Regions from separate parts of the Homo sapiens genome. Here region 2 is linked to region 1. The links come from fine-mapping of genetic effects on gene expression. A gene starts in region 1. The other region holds a variant in brackets. All regions are shown on one strand. Distances are from middle to middle.

Region 1 (5,373 bases):
CCATTGTTCCTGGCCCGGACTTCAATCTGGCCTCCCACATTATTCCTGATACCACACCTGACCCCCATGACTGTATCTCTCTGATCCACCTGATATTCACCCCATTTCCCCATATTTCCTTCTTTCCTGTTCCTCACTCTGATCACGCTTGATTTATTGATGGCAGTTCCACCAGGCCTAATCGCCACACACCAGCAAAGGCAGGCTATGCTATAGTACAAGCCATGAGCCCGCCTCTTAGAACCTCTCATTTCCTTTCCATCGTGGAAATCTGTCCTCAAGGAAATCACTTCTCAGTGTTCCATCTGCTGTTCTACTACTCCTCAGGGATTATTCAGGCCCCCTCCCTTCCCTACACATCAAGCTCAGGGATTTGCCCCCACCCAGGACTGGCAAATTAGCTTTACTCAACATGCCCCGAGTCAGGAAACCAAAATACCTCTTAGTCTAGGCAGACACTTTCACTGGATAGGTACAGGCCTTTTCTACAAGGTCTGAGAAGGCCACCGCAGTCATTTCTTCCCTTCTGTCAGACATAATTCCTCAGTTTAGCCTTCCCACCTCTATACAGTCTGATAACAGACCAGCCTTTATTAGTCAAATCAGCCAAGCAGTTTTTCAGGCTCTTAGTATTCAGTGAAACCTTTATATCCCTTACGGTCCTCTGTCTTCAAGAAAAGTAGAACGGACTAAAGGTCTTTTAAAAACACACCTCACCAAGCTCAGCCACCAACTTAAAAAGGACTGGACAATACTTTTACCTCTTTTGCTTCTCAGAATGCTGCAGGGTACAGCCTATTTGAGCTCCTGTATGGACAATCCTTTTTATTAGGCCCCAGTCTCATTCCAGACACCGGACCAACTTAGACTGTGCCCCAAAAAAACTTGTCATCCCTACTATTTTCTGTCTAGTCATACTCCTATTCTCCGTTCTCAACTACTCATACGTGCCCTGCTCTTGTTTACACTGCTGGTTTACACTGTTTCTCCAAGCCATCACAGCTGATATCTCCTCATGCTATCCCCAAACTGCCACTCTTAACTCCTGAAGTAAACAAATAATCTTTGCTGGCAGGACTATGCTGAATCTCCTTAGGCACTCTCTAATCAGATGTCCTAGGTCCTCCCAATTCTTAGACCTTTTATACCTGTTTTTCTCCTTCTCTTATTCCATTTAGTTTTTCAATTCATACAAAACTGTACCCAGGCCATCACCAATACTTCTACACAACAAATGTTTCTTCTAACAACCCCACAATATCACCCCTTACCACAAAATCTTCCTTCAGCTTAATCTCTCCCACTTTAGGTTCGCACGCCGCCCCTAATCCTGCTTGAAGCAGCCCCGAGAAACATCGCCCATTCTCTCTCCATACCACCCCCCAAGACTTCAACACTATTTTGTTTTATTTTTCTTATTAATAAAAGAAGGCAGAAATGTCAGGCCTCTGAGCCCAAGCCAAGCCATCGCATCACCTGTGACTTGCACGTATACATCCAGATGGCCTGAAGTAACTGAAGATCCACAAAAGAAGTAAAAATAGCCTTAACTGATGACATTCCACCATTGTGATTTGTTCCTGCCCCACCTAACTGATCAATGTACTTTGTAATCTCCCCCACCCTTAAGAAGGTTCTTTGTAATTCTCCCCACCCTTGAGAATGTACTGTGTGAGATCCACCCCTGCCCGCAAAACATTGCTCTTAACTTCACCGCCTATCCCAAAACCTCTAAGAACTAATGATAATCCACCACCCTTTGCTGACTCTCTTTTCGGACTCAGCCTGCCTGCAGCCAGGTGAAATAAACAGCCATCTTGCTCACACAAAGCCTGTTTGGTGGTCTCTTCACATGGACGCGCATGAAACGATTCTCCTGCCTCAGCCTCACAAGTAGCTGGGATTACAGGTGCCTGCCACCATGCCTAATTTTTGTATTTTTAGTAGAGATGGGGTTTCACCATGTTGGTCAGGCTGGTCTCGAACTCCTGATCTCGTGATCTGCCCGCCTCAGACTCCCAAAGTGGTGGGATTACAGATGTGAGCCACCGTGCCTGGCCCGGGCTTGGATTTTATGAAGAGGAAAAGTAGGGGAGCTAGCAAGGGGGTTACACTTGAGGAGGGAGTTCAAATGGACTGCACTGCATAGCCTGCAGGCTTGCAATGAATGTGAAGCTTTAAATGGGATTAAGTGCAAATTGAAAATATTCCAGACACATTTTTCACATTCCTGGCTAGTGAAAAGGTTTATGCTGATGAGAGAAGGCAAAGCTGAATCCCGGAATGGGTTAGGGCAAAGAAAACAAATCTGTCTTAAAGAGACAGACCTGGCCGGGCACGGTGGCTCACGCCTGTAATCCCAGCACTTTTGGAGGCCGAGGCGGTTGGATCACTTGAGGTCAGGAGTTCGAGACCAGCCTGGCCAACATGGTGAAACCCTGTCTCTACTAAAGATACAAAAATTAGCTGGGCGTGGTGGCGCATGCCTATAATCCCAGCTACTCAGGAGGCTGACGCAGGAGAATCGCTTGAACCCGGGAGGTGGAGGTTGCAGTGAGCCGAGATCGCACCACTGCACTCCAGCCTGGGCGACAGAGCAAGACTCGGTCTCGGGGCGGGGAAAAAAAAGGAAGGAGGGAAGGAAGGAAGGAGGGGAGGGAAGGGAGGGAGGGAGGGAAAAAGAAAGAGAGAAAGAAAGAAAGAAGGAAAGAAAGAAAGAGAAAGAAAGAAAAAGAAAGAAAGAAAGAAAGAGAAAGAAAGAAAGAGAAACAACCAAGAAACAACTACAATAGGTGCTCGGCATGTACTCCGTTAAAAAAGATAGAATTAAAACTACAATTCCCAGCAGACATCTCGCCTGCGACTTCTGAATATCGGCTTTCCCCGAGCGCAATGATCGCTGGGATTCGTAGTCCGGTACAAAATCAAGGAGGGACGGGCACTACCGGCCTAGATGACAGAGGAGGGAATCACTGCCATTCCGACCAATGGACAGTTCACGCCGGACCTGAGTGGCGAGCGCATAGCCAATGGGTAAGCCATTCATCCTGAGTGACATGGGTTGCAACCTACCGGAGGCCGGTGGGGCGGTACGGCGCGCGGCGGCCGTAGTGCGAATCATGGGAGGCGGCTGGTGGTGGGCTCGGGCCGCTCGCCTTGCCCGTCTTCGCTTCCGGAGGTCGCTACTGCCGCCTCAGCGGCCCCGGAGCGGGGGCGCCCGGGGGTCCTTCGCCCCCGGCCACGGTCCCCGCGCCGGGGCTTCGCCGCCCCCAGTGTCCGAGCTGGATCGTGCGGACGCCTGGCTCCTCCGAAAAGCGCACGAGACAGGTCGGTGGCTAGGGGTGGGGGCGGTGCGGATGGGACGGGGGTCCCGGGCTCGCGTGGGACCTTGATGGGGCGGGGGCTTCTGCAGGAAACGGGGCCCGGGCTCGGCTCCGAGAAGGGCTTCAGTGTGAGCGCACGGAAGCGCAGACTGCAAGAGCGCAGGTGCCCGCAGAGGGGATGGGCTTGCGGGGAGGACGAGGACCCCGGGTAACGGGGCGCCGTAGGGATTGGAGGGGGTGGTAGGGTTGCGCGAGGCAGCCTCGTAGAATCGCGCCTGCCGTGGGGAGAGGGGCTTCAGGGAGAGCTTAGGGTCTGTGGAGTTGGGTACAAGATGGGTCCATCCCGATTGCAGAGGCCACCACTGTGCAGAGAGCGGGAGTGTGGATCCCCGCAGAAGAGGGGGAAGTTCAGGATTGGAGAAGGGGACAACCAATCGGGAGAAAGCTCTCTGCTGATTGGAGGGGGAGGTGATCTAGGCTGCAGAGGGCGGGGCTTGTGACGGAGGCGAGGTCCAGAATGGAGCGGACTGGCCATGTTTGTTTTTTTTTTAATTTTATTTTTTTAATGACGGTGTCTTGCTCTGTCACCGAGGCTGGACCGCAGTGGCGCAATCGTAGCCCACTGCAGCCTTGAACTCCTGGGCTCAAGCTATCCTCTTGCCTCAGCCTCCTGCTTAGCTGGAGCTACAGGCATACACCACCGCACCCAACTATTTTAATTTATGTAGAGACGGGGTCTTGCTTTGTTGCCCAGGCTGGTCTGAACTCTTGGGCTCAGAGAATCCTCCTGCCTTGGCTTCCCAAAGTGCTGGGATTATAGGTGTGAGTCACCTCACTAGGCCAGGACCGGGCATCTAGATATAGGGTGTGGTGGGCTGTTTGTAAAGGACGTGAATGGGGACGGACGTGGGTGGGATTGGCCCAGGCCATACTCGGTAGGACATGGATGGGATTGGCCCAGGCCATACTCGGTAGGAGATGGCGGCATTTGAAGGAAAAGAAGGGCGAGGCTGAAGAGCGGCCTGGATTAGGAAACAGTTTGTCCCAGAGTTCTGAGAAAGAAGTGAGTGGGCAGGCCGTGGGGGTACACGTAGAGGGAGGGGTTTGGCCAAGATGACTCCTCAGATGGAGGTTCTGCAACTTTGCCCCTAGATTGTCCTCCACATTCTGCAGGGACTATCTTGAATCCTTTATTTTTTTTGAGACGGAGTCTCACTCTGTCGCCCAGGCTGGAGTGCAGTGGCATGATCTTGGCTCGCTGCAACCTCTACCTCCTGGATTCAAGTGATTCTCCTCCCTCAGCTTCCTGAGTAGCTGGGACTACAAGCACGTGCTACCACACCCTGCTAATTTTAACATTTTTAGTAGAGACAGGGTTTGACTATGTTGGCCAGGCTGGTCTCAAACTCCTGACCTCATGATCCGCCTGCCTTGGCCTCCCAAAGTGCTGGGATTACAGGGGTGAGCCACCACACCCGGCCCTTGAATCCTTAGTGTTACAGAGTTTGGGGGAGAGGGGCACTGAGGTGGAGGCCAGAGAGGATGTGGGGGGATATGGTTAGGTGAGCGGCTTCCTGGAAGAGGTGAGGATTTGGGATGGGCTTGCCTTGCGGCTGGATGGGATGGGGTGAGCTGAAGGGAGGCCCCTCAGTTTGACTGGGTAAGGGGGATTGAGGAGGTAGGGTTGGGGGTGATGTTAATCCCCCCATGTCCCCCTCCCTCCAGCCTTCCTCTCCTGGTTCCGCAATGGCCTCCTGGCATCGGGCATCGGGGTCATCTCCTTCATGCAGAGTGACATGGGTCGGGAAGCAGCATATGGTGAGTGCAGACCCCCCCTCTCGCCCCACGGAACCAGGGAATGCAGAGCCCCTATCACCTGCCCTGGTGAGAGTAGACTCTCCTACCCCATCCCACTCCCAGTAGTAAGTATAGAACCCCCATTCTTCCCCCACCAGAAGACACCCCTCCCATAGGCACTAGGTCCATCTGAATGGGTGGCCCAGGACATGGTTATGGTCCCCTCCCCTCCGATCTGATTCTCAAAGATGCA
Region 2 (5,373 bases), 110 kb before region 1:
AGAATCTCAGTCCCAGGCAGGTCTTGCCTGTTAGCTAACACTTTCAGGGCCTGGGGCAAGAGTATGAATGAAGACCCATATATGATGTCTACATATTTAGTTATAAATCACACTAACAAGCTATTAAATGAAGTATATTGTATTATCCTGTCTTGACAAACTCGCCTTCTTCATAACCACCTGGAAGGCCTGGATCAAATTTGAAATTTTCACACTCCTTAGGAGTTCTGTGCCAGATTAAGGCACATCGGGAAAGCTGGCCCCCATCCGTGCCCACTTCTCTTCCCATGCCTGGCTCTGTCCCACAATACTGGTGGCTCTGCACTTGAGTGTAGCTACCCAGCTCATCCTTTCTCACCAAACCCCCACGTCTCTGGCCTAAGCATTCAGACATTGTGACAAGGCCTGCACTGCACAGGCAGAACAGGGAAGCAGCCCACAAAAAGTCCTGAGAAGCTTGGGGTTGTCTGGGCAGGAGATTTCAGGGGTCCCAGGTATCCAGAGTGTGGTCTACAACTGAGGGAAGAAAGCCACAGGTGACAGCCAGAAGTGGGCACAGGACCCCAACCAGGCCAATCAGATTCTCTCTCCTGGGAACTGAAAATGTGAAAGTTGGAATGCAGAGATGCAGATACACATAATGACAATGCTCTAAAGGGAAAGGCCACAAATTCCTAATGCCTCTGGGATTGCCCAGTGGCCCTGGTCTTTACTACTCCTCTCAGATAACAGTAGTTATTCAGTGCTTCTTACACTCCACTTAACAATCCTTTTGGTTCAAACTAACTCATAACAATTAAAAACAAAACAAAACTTAACCAAGCTGCCTAATCTGTAGCAGCAGATGCAAAAGGTGGTACCTGTCTTACCCACTCCACTGGCATTACGCTTATAAAGAAAAAATACACCCGACAATGCCTTCAGGGAATCAGGAGTCTTTCAGGTGAGGCACCCACAGTGTCTGCCAGGGAGTGGCATCCACTATCCACTGGAATGAACCCCTGAAAACAGGTAACTTACATACCTCCTCTCCTCCACTTCCTCAGCTCAAGAATACCTCTGCCTAGAATGCCTGAGCCACTCTTCTCCACCATCCTTCACATACATTTCTGGGCTTAAGGACTTCAATCAACAATCTAGTTAAGACTAATAACAAGGCCGGGTGCGGTGGCTCACACCTATAATCCCAGCACTTTGGGAGGCCAAGGTGGGTAGACCACCTGAGGTCAGGAGTTCGAGACCAGCCTGGCCAACATGGTGAAACCCCGTCTCCACTAAAAATATAAAAATTAGCCGGACATGGTGGCATGTGCCTGTAATCCCAGCTACTTGGGAGGCTGAGACAGGAGAATCGCTTGAACCCAGGAGGCTGAGGTTGCAGTGAGCCGAGATCACAATCAAACCACTGTACTCCAGCCTGGGCAAGAGAGCAAGACTCCGTCTCAAAAAAAAAAAAAAAAAAAAAAAAAGACTTGGCTCATGCCTGTAATCCCAGCACTTTGGGAGGCCAAGGTGAGTGGATCACAAGGTCTGGAGTTCGAGACCAGCCTGGCCAATATGGTGAAACTCCGTCTCTACTAAAAATACAAAAATTAGCCGGGCACTGTGGCTCACGCCTGTAATCCCAGCACTTTGGGAGGCTGAGGCAGGCGGATCACGAGGTCAGGAGATCGAGACCATCCTGGCTAACACGGTGAAACCCCCTCTCTACTAAAAATACAAAAATAAAATTAGCTGGGCGTGGTGGCAGGTGCCTGTAGTTCCATCTACTCAGGAGGCTGAGGCAGGAGAATCGCTTGAACCTGGGAGGCAGAGGTTGCAGTGAGCTGAGATCATGCCACTGCACTCCCGCCTGGGTGACAGAGAAAGACTCTGTCTCAAAAAAAAAAAAAAAAAAAAAAAAAAAGGTGAATTCTCCACATAGCCCATCAACCATCAAATTTGTTGTCAGGAGCCATTTAGCATAGTAGGAAACTGCAATAACCTCAATAACCTCAATACAATAGGTGACTGGTAAAATAGATTATGGCTAGGCAAGAAGAGGAAAAATGACACAGACATTTAAAATCACGCGCTCCAGGCCAGACGTGGTGGCTCATGCCTGTAATCCCAGCACTTTGGGAGGCCAAGGCGGGCGGATCACGAGGTCAGCAGATGGAGACCATCCTAGCTAACACGGTGAAACCCGTCTCTACTAAAAATACAAAAAATTAGCCGGGTGTGGTGGCGGGTGTCTGTAGTCCCAGCTACTCGGGAGGCTGAGGCAGGAGAATGGCGTGAACCCAGGAGGCAGAGCTTGCAGTGAGCCGAGATTGCGCCACTGCACTCCAGCCTGGGCGACAGATCGAGACTTCGTCTCAAAAAAATAAAAAAATAAAAATAAAATAAAATCATGTGCTCCAAAGCAGATTTGGGGAATGCTTATTGAGTGAAAAAAGCAAAAGACAAAACCATGTACATATATATACACATATACAAGCCAGGTGCAATGGCTCACGCCTGTAATCCCAAAACTTTGGGAGGCCGATGTGGGCGGATCACCTGAGGTCAGGAGTTCGAGACCAGCCTGGCGAACAAGGTGAAAACGCCCTCTACTTAAAATACAAAACTTAGCCGGGTGTGGTAGCACAAGCCTGTAATCCCAGCTACTCGGGAGGCTGAGGCCAGAGGATCACTTGAACCTGGGAGACGGAGATCACGCCACTGCGCTCCAGCCTGGGCAATAAAGCAAGACTCTGTCTCTAAATAAATAAATGGCACAGTACTTGCATATACTCTACGTGCATCCTCCCATATACTTTATTTATTTATTTATTTTTGAGATAGAGTCTTGCTCTGTCGCCCAGGCTGGAGTGCAACGGTGCGATCTTGGCTCACTGCAACCTCTGCCTCCCAAGTTCAAGTGATTCTCCTGCCTCAGCCTCCTGAGTAGCTGGGATTACAGGTGTGAGCCACCATGCCCAGCTAATTTTGTATTTCTGTTAGAGATGGGGTTTCACCATGTTGGCCAGGCTGGTCTCCAACTCCTGACCTCAAGTGATCCACCCGCCTTGGCCTCCCAAAGTGCTGGGATTTCAGGCGTGAGGCACTG[C/T]GCCTGGCCTCCCATATACTTTAAATCATCTCTAGATTACTTATAATACCTAATGGAATTGCTATGTAAACAGTTGTTATATTGTATTGCTTAGGGAATAATGACAAGAAAAAAAGTCTGTACATGTTTGGTACAGATAGACGCAATGTTTTTTCCCAAATATTTTATTATTAACATAATTTCAATTTTCTTTTTTTTTTTTTGGATGTACTCCAAGCACACTAAAGATTTTTGATCCACAGTTGGTTGAATCCATGAATGTGAAGCCCATTAATAAGGAGAGCTAACTATATATATTATCTGTATTAAACAGTGCCCCAATTTTGTTGTATATACATAGAAAAATACTGAAAGGAAGGTTATAGTTATCATTTGGTAGTAGGATTAACATTTCATTAACTTGTTCTGCATTTTCCACATTTGGAATTATGAACTTATTTTACTTAAAAAAAAATTTTTTTTTGAGACAGTGTGTTGCTCTGTCACCCAGGATGTACTACAGTGGCACAATCTCAGCTCACTGCTGCCTACACTTGCCAGGCTCAGGCAATCCTCCCGCCTCAGCTTCCCCAGTAGCTGAGACCACTGGCACGTGCTACCACGCCCAGCTAATTTTTGTATTTTTGGTAGAGAAGGGGTTTTAGCCACATTGCCCAGGCTGGTCTCAAACTCCTGGGCTCAAGTGATGTGCCCACTTTGGCTTCCCAAAGTGCTGGGATTACAGGCATGAGCCACTGCACCCAGCCTTATTTTACTTCTTAAATCAGGCCTAACAGTAACAAGTAATATAATTCTGCATATAAAGATGAATATAATCCCCAGGTCCTACCCAATCAAAATTCCTGGGGTAGGGGGTGGGGAGGGTAGAGGGACCAAGAATCTTTAAAAAGCTTTAACAAAGTATTCTAACAAATGACAACCATAATCAAAACACATTTTTCACACTCAGCAGAATGGAAAAAAAACGCCTGAAGTTACCAAATGTTACTGATACATAATGTTGGTTCTAGAATATAAATTGATAAAACCACTTGAGAGTAACTTAACGGGGTCTGGTAAAGCTGAAAATGCCCTTATCTTAATTTTACTCCCAGGTATATACCCAAGAGAAATTAACACAATTGCCCAAGGAGATCATCTATACACACACAAACAAAATGCTTATGCAGCACAATTTGTAACAGCAAATTATGAGCATACCCAAATGCTTATAAATAGAAAAATGGATATAAAATAGTAATGTATTTACACAACAAAGACTCTAGCAAAAAACAAAAATAAAAACAAAACAAAAACCAAAAAGAAATGCCCTGCAGGGCTGTCCAAGAGAACTAGCTGTGATGATGGAACAGAATGTAATCTGTGCTATGCAATACAGATGCCAATGGCCACATGTGCTTACTGGCCACTTGAAATGTGACCAGTGAGACTGAGGAACTAAATATTTGATTTGATTTGATTTTAATTAATTTAAACAGCCAGCTGTGGCTAGTGGCTACCAAAATGGACAGCAAAGCCCTAGAACAACATATAAACAGATGGCCTCACAAACGTGTTGCTTCTCCTTAAAAGCAGGTGGCACCATGCATACAATATAAAACCAATTTTTAAGAAGATAAAAAGCATGCAAAGCAATTCTATGTGTTGCTTGGAAATACATACATAAGTAGTAAGAAGAAATGCATAGGAATGAGAAACCCAACTGAGGAGGGTGGTAACTTCTGTTGGAGGGACAGCCAGAGGGCCTCACCATACCAGTAATGTTTGATGCTTCAAATTGAGTGGTAGGTCTATGATGGTGAGCGAAATCATTCTTAATTTATGCCTAAAATATTGTATAATAAGTTCCATGTCATTGTTTAGATTTATAAACACGTGATAAAACAGGAAGTCAAGCAGGGCTGTATCTGCCCCTTCCAGGTGTCTTTTTTAATCCACACAAATGTACCAGCAGCTCTGGGGTTACTTACCTGGTGAGGGTACAGGGAGAAGAAGTAGAAGATAGAGAAACAGCATACAGATTGGTACAAAAGTACCAAAAATATTTGTGTTTTTAAGGCGGATAGTGTTTGTTTTGTTCCATTATCTGCATTGATGCTGCATATCTTCTTTTGTGCATTAAATGTCACAATAAAAAAAATATAGGCTGGGTACGGTGGCTCATGCCTATAATCTCAGCACTTTGAGAGGCCAAGGCAAGAGGATCACTTGAGGCCAGGAGTTTGAGATCAGCCTGGGCAACACAGCAAGAGATCTCAAAAAAAAAAAAAAACCCGAAAAAA

Alleles and levels. Alleles are on the strand shown, and positions count from the first base shown. SD is a standard deviation of normalised expression in the study named.
For the expression in monocytes of the gene that starts at base 3,110 in region 1, C is the low allele of the variant in region 2 and T is the other (small effect, 0.40 SD a copy in Fairfax 2014).

What was found. PIP is the estimated chance that this variant, and not a neighbour inherited with it, causes the effect. A credible set is the group of variants that fine-mapping cannot tell apart.
Region 2: its variant is the best candidate, but not a certain one, in a credible set for the expression of TMEM160 in monocytes (Fairfax 2014, PIP 0.67).

Annotation. Positions count from the first base shown.
Region 1 is chr19:47,046,361-47,051,733 of GRCh38, reverse strand. TMEM160 (transmembrane protein 160) reads left to right here and starts at 3,110. Exons shown (of 3, transcript NM_017854.2): 1 at 3,110-3,327; 2 at 5,049-5,141. The coding sequence starts at 3,120. RefSeq lists enhancers at 1,650-2,167, 2,168-2,685, 2,809-3,103, 3,613-3,682 and a silencer at 3,143-3,332.
Region 2 is chr19:47,161,173-47,166,545 of GRCh38, reverse strand. The region is part of intron 5 of SAE1 (SUMO1 activating enzyme subunit 1); the gene reads right to left. It overlaps LOC124904730 (a long non-coding RNA gene), which reads right to left. Exons shown (of 2, transcript XR_007067277.1): 2 at 3,238-5,373. Among named protein-coding and RNA genes, the nearest start is that of SAE1, 33 kb to the right of the region's middle. The variant C/T (reference allele first, on the strand shown) is at 3,092.